Homo sapiens: one gene and its partner. The protein of the gene in region 1 interacts with the protein of each later gene in a pairwise test. Each region holds a gene or a part of one and is shown in the gene's direction. Other genes may lie near its edges. The genes, in order: CCIN and TARDBP.

Region 1 (7,659 bases):
AAATAAGGATGCCATAAATTGGAATTAGGGCCATGGCAAACCAAAGCTACTTGCAAGCCAAGTTATGAATAGGAAATACACAGAAGCGAAGAAGCCAGTTATTGGAGGTACAAAAGAGGAGGAGATGCTGAGAATATTCTTGAATGTTCCTGAGTTTTCTAGCTCCAGCCCAAATCTGTATATCTTTAAAATATGCCCCTCATTTTCCTCAGGGCTTCCAAACAAACTGATATACCAGCCGATAGTCCCCAAAGATTAGAATCATACCATCTCTTCCTAACGGGAGACACCATGAACAGAAAATGTGGCGCCTGGTAGGAAGCTGACGGTGGGTGAAAAGACCCTGCTGAGATCCTTTTCTGGCCCCACCTGGCAAGCTGCCAGCCAATGAACTTCTTGGTGGCTCCTCGGGTCACCCCCCCCACCCCCATACACACACACACACACACACACACAACCAGGTGGTGGAAGCCAGCATGCAGCCAGCCTCTATGGGCTGGAGTTTGTTTCCACAGTTGGCTGGATTGAGGAAAAAGCTGGACCGGGGAGCTTTCCTGGGCTAAAGAAATGCCAGACAGCAAAGCTGGCTGAGCAGGTGGGCACTAATCTCACTTTTAAGGATTTCTTGAAGATGGCAAGCCTCACAATCCAAAAAGAACAAGGACAAACCAAACCGCGGCTCTCCTTTGTAGCCAGAGGGCAGAGGAAGAAGACAGCTCTCTGGTGCAAGCCTCTTCCTCTCCCTGGGCTTCAATTTATCCACCTGTACGAGGTCTGTCACATGGAGTTAGGTCTATCAGTTCTCTCAGGTCCCCATGACACCTCCAGACCCAACTTAATGCTGGAAGTGTCTGATGAGAGAGCTCATTCCTGCCTTGGTGCTCTGGGAGCTGAAACAAAAACAAACAGGCATGGCCACCTCCTCCACTGAAATGCTCCCAAGGCTGAAGCTTGCAGGTGGGAGGGCAGGGGAGAGGACAAAGGAGGTGTGAAGCAGCAGGGCCTGACCCACCCACCCCCTGCTCCCGGGTGAAGATGTCCCAGGAGGCGAGATCTGCCAGCCTGCATGTCCATGGGAGCCAGAAGGTGTCTGGCATCAGCACCAAGAGGCCTCATCATTCACCCAAGTTGCTGCTGCTGCTTTGCAGAAGGTAAGGGCTGAAGAGGCATTAAGGGCTTAATTATTCTCCCAGGGAGACTGGTCTCCGGAGGAGGAGGCTGAAATTGAAGTCTACTTCCAATGGGGAAAACAGAAGTTCTTCACTTTGTGCACGTATCATATCCCAAGAGACCGAGTCTCTCTATCGCATTCGGGCGGGAAGGTGGACAAATTCAGTTTAAAAGGGTATTTTTGGCCAGGTGCGGTGGCTAACGCCTGTAATCCCATACATTAGGAGGCCAAGGTGGGTGGATCACGAGGTCAGGAGTTCAAGACCAGCCTGGCCAAGACGGTGAAACCCCGTCTCTACTAAAAATACAAAAGTTAGCCGGGCGTGGCTGCGCGCGCCTGTAATCCCAGCTACTTGGGAGGCTGAGGCAAGAAATTACTTGAACCCGGGAGGCGGAGGTTGCAGTGAGCCGAGATCGGGCCACTGCACTCCAGCCTGGGGGACAGAGTGAGACTCCATCTCAGAAAAAAAAAAAAAAAAAAGGGAAGGGGCGTATTTTCAAATAATTTTCAAGTTACCAAATCTAAAAATAAGGAAAAGACTAGTCTGGAATGAACGGACGAGGGAGGGAGACAATGAGAATGAGAATATGACTAAGCCAGGGAGGGAAAGAGCTGGAACGGCTCAGATTCCCGAGGCTGATACTGAAATTTCCCGGGAGGGGCACTGAGGACGGCCCGAGGGTCTAGAGTGGGGCTTGGGCCCAGATTGGAGGAGATCAGAGAGGTAAGTCCTTTCTGTACCTTCTCGCGAATGCCTGGGCGAGATGCAAGTCCAGGCCCTTCTCTGGGGTCTCTTCCCAAAGGCTGGTCCGGGTGGGGCTACTGGGCTCTTTTGCCTCCCCCTCCCTCCCGCCCGCGGCGCTCCAGCTGGCGCTTATCCCCTTCTTGCACGAACAGCAGTTCCACAGACGCCCCACAGGACTCCGGGAGCCCCACGCCAGCCAGGAATCTGTCCGAGTCTGCGGGCACCCTCCTCTCTCCCCGCAAAGGACTCGCAGGGGTCAGGAAACCCCCCCAGCTGTTACTGGGAGTCGGAGACAGTCTTCTGGCCTCTGGAGGGCGCGCCTCCGTTGGGGGCTCAGCGTCCCCATCTGTAAAGTGGGGACAGGTGTGTGTCTGGGGAAATCTAAGGAGTCCTGCAAGGCTGAGAGCCCCCGATCCTGCCGTTTGAATTCCAGGGTCGCGGCGGACGGCACGGCGCTGCCGCCTTTGCACGGTGGCGCGTGGAGGCAAAGCGAAAAAGGGGACGCCCCGCGCCTCTTTTCCATCCTGGAGAGGGGTTGGGGTGGTGCCCGGCGCAGAGGCGGTGCGCTCGGGGGCGGGGACGACCCTCCAGCGCCACCGCGTGGCTGGACTGGGTTCGGGCGGCGGGCCCAGAAGAGACGCGAGGTAGCCACAGCCTCCTCAGCTACCGCGAAACCAGAACCACGATGACCACAAGTTTTTATGAAGGGAGCAGCCACGAACGCCGGCGCTGGGCGAACTGGTGTAATATGAGTAAGAAAACGGCAGCTAGCATTGATTGAGCTTTATGACAAGCCCACTACTCTCCAGTCCTTTTCTCATTTAAACTCTAATAATAGGCCGGGCACGGTGGTTCACGCCTATAATCCCAACCCTTTGAGAGGCCGAGGCGGGCGGATCACCTGAGGTCAGGGGTTCGAGACCAGCTTGGCCAACATGGTGAAACCTCGTCTCTACTAAAAATACAAAACTTTGCCGGGCATGTTGACAGGCGCCTGTAATCCCAGCTACTGGGGGTGGGGGGTGAGGGGGGTTGGGGGGTTGGGTAATAAAAGACAGGGGAATTGCAACAGAGAAAGAGTAATTCACACAGAGCCAGCCGTGCGGGAGACTGGAGGGTTTTGTTTTTGTTTTTTGGGGTTTTTTTTTTTGAGACGGAGTCTCACTCTGTCGCCCAGGCTGGAGTGCAATGGTGCGATCTGGGCACGCTGCAACCTCCGCCTCCCGGGTTCGAGCGATTCTGCTGCCTCAGTCTCCCCAGTAGCTGGGATTACAGGCATTACAGGCATGCACCACCACTCCCAACTAATTTTTGTATTTTTAGTAGAGACAGGGTTTTGCCATGTTGGCCAGGCTGGTCTCGAAACCATGACCTCAGGTGATCCGCCCACCTTGGCATCCCAAAGTGCTAGGATTACAAGCATGAGGCACCGCGCCCGGCCTGGAGTTTTATTATTACTCAAATCAGTCTCCCGGAGCATTGGGGGAGCAGAGTTTTTAAAGATAACTTGGTGGGTAGGGGGAAGCCAGTGAGCCAGGAGTGCTGCTGATTGGTCAGAGATGAAATCATGGGAGTTGGAGCTGTCTTCTTGGGCTGAGTCAGTTCTTGGGTCTGGGGGCCACAAGATCAGATGAGCCAGTTTATTGATCTGAGTGGTGCCAGCTGATCCATCAAGTGCAGGTTCTGCAAAATATCTCAAGCACCGGCCGGGCACGGGGGCTCACGCCTGTAATCCCAGCACTTTGGAAGGCTGAGGCAGGTGGATCACCTGAGGTCGGGAGTTTGAGACCAGCCTGACCAACATAGAGAAACCCCATCTCTACTAAAAATACAGAATTAGCCGGGTGTGGTGGTGCATGCCTGTAATCCCAGCTACTCAGGAGGCTGAGGCAGGAGAAACGCTTGAACCCGGGAGTTGGAGGTTGTGGTGAGCCGAGAACGCACCATTGCACTCCGGCCTGGGCAAGAAGAGCGAAACTGTCTAAAAAAAAAAAAAAAGAGAAATCTCAAGCACTGGTCTTAGGAGCAGTTTAGGGAGGGTTAGAATCTTGTAGCCTCCAGCTACATGACTCCTAAACCATAATTTCTAATCTTGTGGCTAATGTTAGTCCTACAAAGGCAATCTAGTCCCCAGGCAAGAAGGAGGTCTGCTTTGGGAAAGGGCTGTCTTTGTTTAAACCGTAAACTATACATATAGGTTTCTCCCAAAGTTAGTTCAGCCTTTGCCAAGGAATGAGCAAGGACAGCTTGGAGGTTAGAAGCAAGATGGAGTCAGTTAAGTTGATCTCTTTCACTGTCTCAGTCATAATTTTGCAAAGGCTGTTTCAAGCTGAGATCGCACCACTGCACTCCAACCTGGGTGACAGAGCGAGACTCTGTCTCAAAAAAATAAAAATAAAAATAAAAATAAACTCATAATAATCTTTGAAGTGGGTACTACTATCAAATATTAGTTCCATCTCACAGAGGAGGAAACTGAGGTTTAGAAAGTCTGATCAACTCGCCCAAGTCCACCTTTGATGGAGAAAGCTGACCCACTGAAGCCCCCAACATTTTCCAACTGGACACTTGGAAATGTTGGGGGAACATTCTAGTTTGCCAAGGAGCTGAAATCATCCGGTCTTTAAAGACCCTCCCATGCCCCCGTTTGTGGTTAACTCCTTCATCCCTGCTCCAGGGAGTGGCCTCCACCTCTCCATTTTGAAGGAGAATGATGTCTGTGGCCACCAAGGTCAGAAGCCAAAGGACAGAGCTTTTCTCTGATGCCCAGGAGCCTTGGCAGGAAGAGTGCTTGGAGAGTTGAGAGTCAGAGACTGGGGAAAGCTGGGTAGTCAGGAGCTTCCAGAAGGGTAGGAAGAATGCGAGGTTCCCCAGGTTCTGGGCCCTGCTCGGCTTCCAACTGGCTATGTGATTTTGGGCAAGTGCCTTCTCTTCTCTGGGCCTCAGTTTCCCTCAAAATGGGAGGATTCTTCTAGGTCTAATAATCTCTTCCCTTTCCCCACCTCCCCTTATCTCTCCTACACAAACTGCTCCCCACTGCCCCACCCAGACTGGCTCTGATATTCCAGAAGCCTTTAACTACGGTTTGAAAGTCCCAGGTGGAAGTTGCCGCCCATCCCTGAGGTTCCTCCTGAGCTCTGGGCCCAGGGCTTTAGGTCCTGCTAGGGTATGTGGCCTTGGCAGGTTGGAGAGATCAGAGGGGAGGAAGGCCCAGTGCCTCTGAGACAGGCCTCAGGGAGGCCTGCATTGTGATGACCTGATCCACTCTATGACATCATCCTCTCTTCCACCCTCTCTTCTCCCTGGTCAACCGCTCTGCAAACAACCATCAATCTGATCCCACAGGCCTGAGAAAGTCTGCTCTCCAGTACCTGCTGCTGATCTGTTTCAGCCGACAAGAGGCACCATGAAATTGGAATTCACGGAGAAAAACTACAATAGCTTCGTGCTGCAGAACCTGAACAGACAGAGGAAACGCAAAGAGTACTGGGACATGGCCCTGAGTGTGGACAACCACGTCTTCTTTGCACATCGCAATGTGCTGGCTGCTGTCTCCCCACTGGTGAGGAGCCTCATCTCCAGCAATGACATGAAGACCGCTGATGAGCTTTTCATCACCATTGACACCAGTTACCTGAGCCCGGTCACAGTGGACCAGCTTCTGGACTACTTCTATAGCGGCAAGGTGGTGATCTCCGAGCAAAATGTGGAGGAGCTGCTTCGTGGGGCTCAGTATTTCAACACACCACGCCTTCGAGTTCACTGTAACGACTTCCTTATTAAGTCCATCTGCCGTGCCAACTGCTTGCGCTACCTCTTCTTGGCTGAGCTGTTTGAGCTCAAAGAGGTATCAGACGTAGCTTACTCTGGCATTCGGGACAACTTCCACTACTGGGCCAGTCCTGAGGGCTCCATGCACTTCATGCGCTGTCCACCTGTTATCTTTGGCCGCCTGCTCCGTGATGAAAACCTTCACGTGCTCAATGAAGACCAGGCGCTCAGCGCACTCATCAATTGGGTGTACTTCCGGAAGGAGGATCGGGAGAAGTATTTCAAGAAGTTCTTCAATTACATCAATCTCAATGCTGTCTCCAATAAGACGCTGGTGTTTGCCAGCAACAAGCTGGTGGGCATGGAGAACACCTCATCCCATACAACCCTGATTGAGAGTGTCCTGATGGACCGCAAGCAGGAGCGGCCATGCAGCCTGCTGGTCTACCAGCGGAAAGGGGCCCTGCTTGATTCCGTGGTCATCCTCGGTGGCCAGAAGGCCCACGGCCAGTTCAATGATGGAGTGTTTGCTTATATCATCCAGGAGAACCTGTGGATGAAGCTCTCAGACATGCCCTATCGGGCAGCAGCACTTAGTGCCACCTCTGCTGGTCGCTACATCTACATCTCTGGTGGCACCACTGAGCAGATTTCAGGGCTGAAGACAGCCTGGCGGTATGACATGGATGACAACTCCTGGACCAAGTTGCCTGACCTGCCCATCGGGCTTGTCTTCCACACCATGGTGACCTGTGGGGGGACAGTGTACTCAGTGGGCGGGAGCATTGCCCCAAGGCGGTATGTCTCCAACATCTATCGCTATGATGAGCGGAAGGAAGTCTGGTGCCTGGCAGGAAAGATGAGCATCCCCATGGATGGCACCGCCGTGATCACTAAAGGAGACAGGCATCTGTACATTGTCACTGGACGGTGCTTGGTGAAAGGTTATATCTCCCGGGTCGGGGTAGTGGACTGCTTTGACACCAGCACTGGGGACGTGGTCCAGTGTATCACCTTCCCCATTGAGTTCAACCATCGGCCCCTGCTCTCTTTCCAACAGGACAACATCCTCTGCGTGCACAGCCACCGGCAGAGTGTGGAAATCAATCTGCAGAAGGTGAAGGCAAGCAAGACGACCACCTCAGTGCCTGTCTTGCCCAACAGCTGCCCCTTGGATGTGTCCCATGCTATATGCTCCATTGGAGACAGCAAGGTGTTTGTATGTGGGGGTGTCACCACTGCCAGCGATGTCCAGACAAAGGACTACACCATCAATCCAAATGCCTTCTTGCTGGACCAAAAGACAGGCAAGTGGAAGACCCTGGCTCCTCCACCAGAGGCACTGGACTGTCCTGCCTGCTGTCTAGCCAAGCTACCTTGCAAGATTCTTCAAAGGATTTAAACATTTTAAGTGGGAGAATAAGTAAATGCATTATTATTCACGATTTAATGAGAGAAAGAGAGGAAGATGGCCTGTTGTTTCCTTCTTAGTGTTCCAGTCCATGCTTGGCCCTGAAGGTGGAGATCCTAGGGGAGGGCTGCTCCCAGTGGGTGGAAACTCAGGGCCACTATGTCATTGGAGGTATCCAACAGGGCCTGGAAAGGAACCCCTGGTGGGTGGAATTGAGGCCCCTCCCAGGCACTGGCCAAGGCGATGTCTGTCCCCTATTCTGTACCCCTGTGATCACCTCTCAGGCATCTGCTAGATTGGCAGGTAAACATCCACTCAGAGCTGTGAAGCATCAAGCTCCTCCAGCACCTGCTTCCCTCCGGTCTTTCACAAAAGCAGGGGAGGACCCGTCCCAGGTCTGAGAGAGGAATCTCATGGCCAGGAAGGAGAAGGTGACCTGGGTAAGACTCAGAAAAGAAGGCAGAAGGAACAGGGGAGGCAAGGTTACTTAGCTTCTGTATTTGCCCATGCAGCTACGGTAGTTTGTGTCTCATTTGTGGGAAAGCTGGAGGTTCCTTACAA
Region 2 (3,632 bases), on another chromosome or scaffold:
GACAGTGGGGTTGTGGTTGGTTGGTATAGAATGGTGGGAATTCAAATTTTTCTAAACTCATGGTAAGTATATTGTAAAATACATATGTACTAAGAATTTTCAAAATTGGTTTGTTCAGTGTGGAGTATATTCAGCAGTATTTTTGACATTTTTCTTTAGAAAAAGGAAGAGCTAAAGGAATTTTATAAGTTTTGTTACATGAAAGGTTGAAATATTGAGTGGTTGAAAGTGAACTGCTGTTTGCCTGATTGGTAAACCAACACACTACAATTGATATCAAAAGGTTTCTCCTGTAATATTTTATCCCTGGACTTGTCAAGTGAATTCTTTGCATGTTCAAAACGGAAACCATTGATTAGAACTACATTCTTTACCCCTTGTTTTAATTTGAACCCCACCATATGGATTTTTTTCCTTAAGAAAATCTCCTTTTAGGAGATCATGGTGTCACAGTGTTTGGTTCTTTTGTTTTGTTTTTTAACACTTGTCTCCCCTCATACACAAAAGTACAATATGAAGCCTTCATTTAATCTCTGCAGTTCATCTCATTTCAAATGTTTATGGAAGAAGCACTTCATTGAAAGTAGTGCTGTAAATATTCTGCCATAGGAATACTGTCTACATGCTTTCTCATTCAAGAATTCGTCATCACGCATCACAGGCCGCGTCTTTGACGGTGGGTGTCCCATTTTTATCCGCTACTCTTTATTTCATGGAGTCGTATCAACGCTATGAACGCAAGGCTGTGATATGGAACCAGAAGGCTGTCTGAACTTTTGAAACCTTGTGTGGGATTGATGGTGGTGCCGAGGCATGAAAGGCTAGTATGAGCGAGAAAAGGAGAGAGCGCGTGCAGAGACTTGGTGGTGCATAATGGATATTTTTTAACTTGGCGAGATGTGTCTCTCAATCCTGTGGCTTTGGTGAGAGAGTGTGCAGAGAGCAATGATAGCAAATAATGTACGAATGTTTTTTGCATTCAAAGGACATCCACATCTGTTGGAAGACTTTTAAGTGAGTTTTTGTTCTTAGATAACCCACATTAGATGAATGTGTTAAGTGAAATGATACTTGTACTCCCCCTACCCCTTTGTCAACTGCTGTGAATGCTGTATGGTGTGTGTTCTCTTCTGTTACTGATATGTAAGTGTGGCAATGTGAACTGAAGCTGATGGGCTGAGAACATGGACTGAGCTTGTGGTGTGCTTTGCAGGAGGACTTGAAGCAGAGTTCACCAGTGAGCTCAGGTGTCTCAAAGAAGGGTGGAAGTTCTAATGTCTGTTAGCTACCCATAAGAATGCTGTTTGCTGCAGTTCTGTGTCCTGTGCTTGGATGCTTTTTATAAGAGTTGTCATTGTTGGAAATTCTTAAATAAAACTGATTTAAATAATATGTGTCTTTGTTTTGCAGCCCTGAATGCAAAGAATTCATAGCAGTTAATTCCCCTTTTTTGACCCTTTTGAGATGGAACTTTCATAAAGTTTCTTGGCAGTAGTTTATTTTGCTTCAAATAAACTTATTTGAAAAGTTGTCTCAAGTCAAATGGATTCATCACCTGTCATGCATTGACACCTGATACCCAGACTTAATTGGTATTTGTTCTTGCATTGGCCAAAGTGAAAATTTTTTTTTTTCTTTTGAAATCTAGTTTTGAATAAGTCTGGGTGACCGCACCTAAAATGGTAAGCAGTACCCTCCGGCTTTTTCTTAGTGCCTCTGTGCATTTGGGTGATGTTCTATTTACATGGCCTGTGTAAATCTCCATTGGGAAGTCATGCCTTCTAAAAAGATTCTTATTTGGGGGAGTGGGCAAAATGTTGATTATTTTCTAATGCTTTGTAGCAAAGCATATCAATTGAAAAGGGAATATCAGCACCTTCCTAGTTTGGGATTTGAAAAGTGGAATTAATTGCAGTAGGGATAAAGTAGAAGAAACCACAAATTATCTTGTGCCTGAAATCCATTAAGAGGCCTGATAGCTTTAAGAATTAGGGTGGGTTGTCTGTCTGGAAGTGTTAAGTGGAATGGGCTTTGTCCTCCAGGAGGTGGGGGAATGTGGTAACATTGAATACAGTTGAATAAAATCGCTTACAAAACTCACACTCTCACAATGCATTGTTAAGTATGTAAAAGCAATAACATTGATTCTCTGTTGTACTTTTTTGTAACTAATTCTGTGAGAGTTGAGCTCATTTTCTAGTTGGAAGAATGTGATATTTGTTGTGTTGGTAGTTTACCTAATGCCCTTACCTAATTAGATTATGATAAATAGGTTTGTCATTTTGCAAGTTACATAAACATTTATCAATGAAGTCATCCTTTAGACTTGTAATCGCCACATTGTTTCATTATTCAGTTTCCTCTGTAAAGGGATCTTGAGTTGTTTTAATTTTTTTTTTCTGCATCTGAATCTGCATGATTTCCAAACCCTGTACCATCTGAATTTTGCATTTTAGCACTTGCACTATTACTCAGCAGCAGTAACATGGTAACACTTAAAATGGTACTCGGGGACCTCCAAAGACTAAACTGACAAGCCTTCAAGGAGCCCAGGGGTAAGTTAACTTGTCAACGGCATGGTTTAATCCCTTCTTTACACTTGTGTAAATTTCAGTTACTGGTCATAGAAGGCTTTCAATGTTGAGTGGCCTTTTATTAACATGTTTATGGTACTGCATAGATACGGGTATTTATTTTACCCTAAGAAGATTTTGAAGTTTAAAAGTACTTAAACTATTTGGCAAAGATTTGTTTTTAAAAATCTATTTGGTCAATCTAAATGCATTCATTCTAAAAAATTTTTTGAACCAGATAAATAAAATTTTTTTTTGACACCACAGTTTAGTGTCTGGAGTCTTACTGGAAAAACACGATTTCTTTTTATATGTGATATACAGATGCTGGAAAGTTACCTTTAAAAATTGAGTCTCTAAAGAAAAAAGAAAATAATAAAAATTGAGTCTCAAGAAGTTGTACTTCATATGCACAAGAGAAATGAGGCCAAGACTCACAGTAAGCTTTTACATGGAATGGTAACTTTTAGTTAGACTGAAAAACTTGAATGTTAGCTATTAAAACCTTTTAGGAAGGAATAGCCAGCTAAAACCAAATGAGATTTTTAAAGTTAAATCAGCACTTAAGTTGTGTCCTTAGTAGGAAAAAGTAGGAAGTTAACTACTCCGTAATCCAAGAGATAATGTGTAACAGTAAGAATGATTTTGTTGTTGTTGAGTATGAGCAAAGTAGCCCCTAAGTGTGTATTAGGGTTCTGTACTTAACTGTTGTGTGATGTGTGCTTTTGTTAGGCATCACTGTGCCCAAGTATTTCATGTTCATTGTAAAGAGGAAAAATACAGATTTCTCTATAATGTCACCACTTATTTCTAATGCCACTTTTCATCTTGTGGAAATGCCATGTTTTGATTCAGTCTTCTGAATTTGAACATTATTCAGGTTATTTCCAATTGCTGGGAATATCCTTACTGCTAAAATAAATTCTTAGCATTGGAATTGCTAGGTCAAAGATTATGCATGCTTTTTAAGGGCTTTTGAAATGTATTGCCAGTCTGTGGCCTGCCACCCTCCCTGAACATGCCTGGTCTTGCTTAAAATGTATTGCCAAATAGTCCTTG

What was found.
Region 2: the proteins of CCIN (region 1) and TARDBP interact in binary tests that used the Homo sapiens proteins (3 or more experiments, as listed by UniProt).

The regions. Positions count from the first base shown.
Region 1 is NC_000009.12:36,164,181-36,171,839, forward strand, and holds CCIN (calicin), read left to right. Parts: upstream 1-5,207; 5' UTR 5,208-5,322; coding exon 5,323-7,089; 3' UTR 7,090-7,154; downstream 7,155-7,659. UniProt on the Homo sapiens protein: Required for both nuclear and acrosomal shaping during spermiogenesis.
Region 2 is NC_000001.11:11,022,654-11,026,285, forward strand, and holds the end of TARDBP (TAR DNA-binding protein 43), read left to right. Parts: coding exon 1-1; 3' UTR 2-2,839; downstream 2,840-3,632. UniProt on the Homo sapiens protein: RNA-binding protein that is involved in various steps of RNA biogenesis and processing.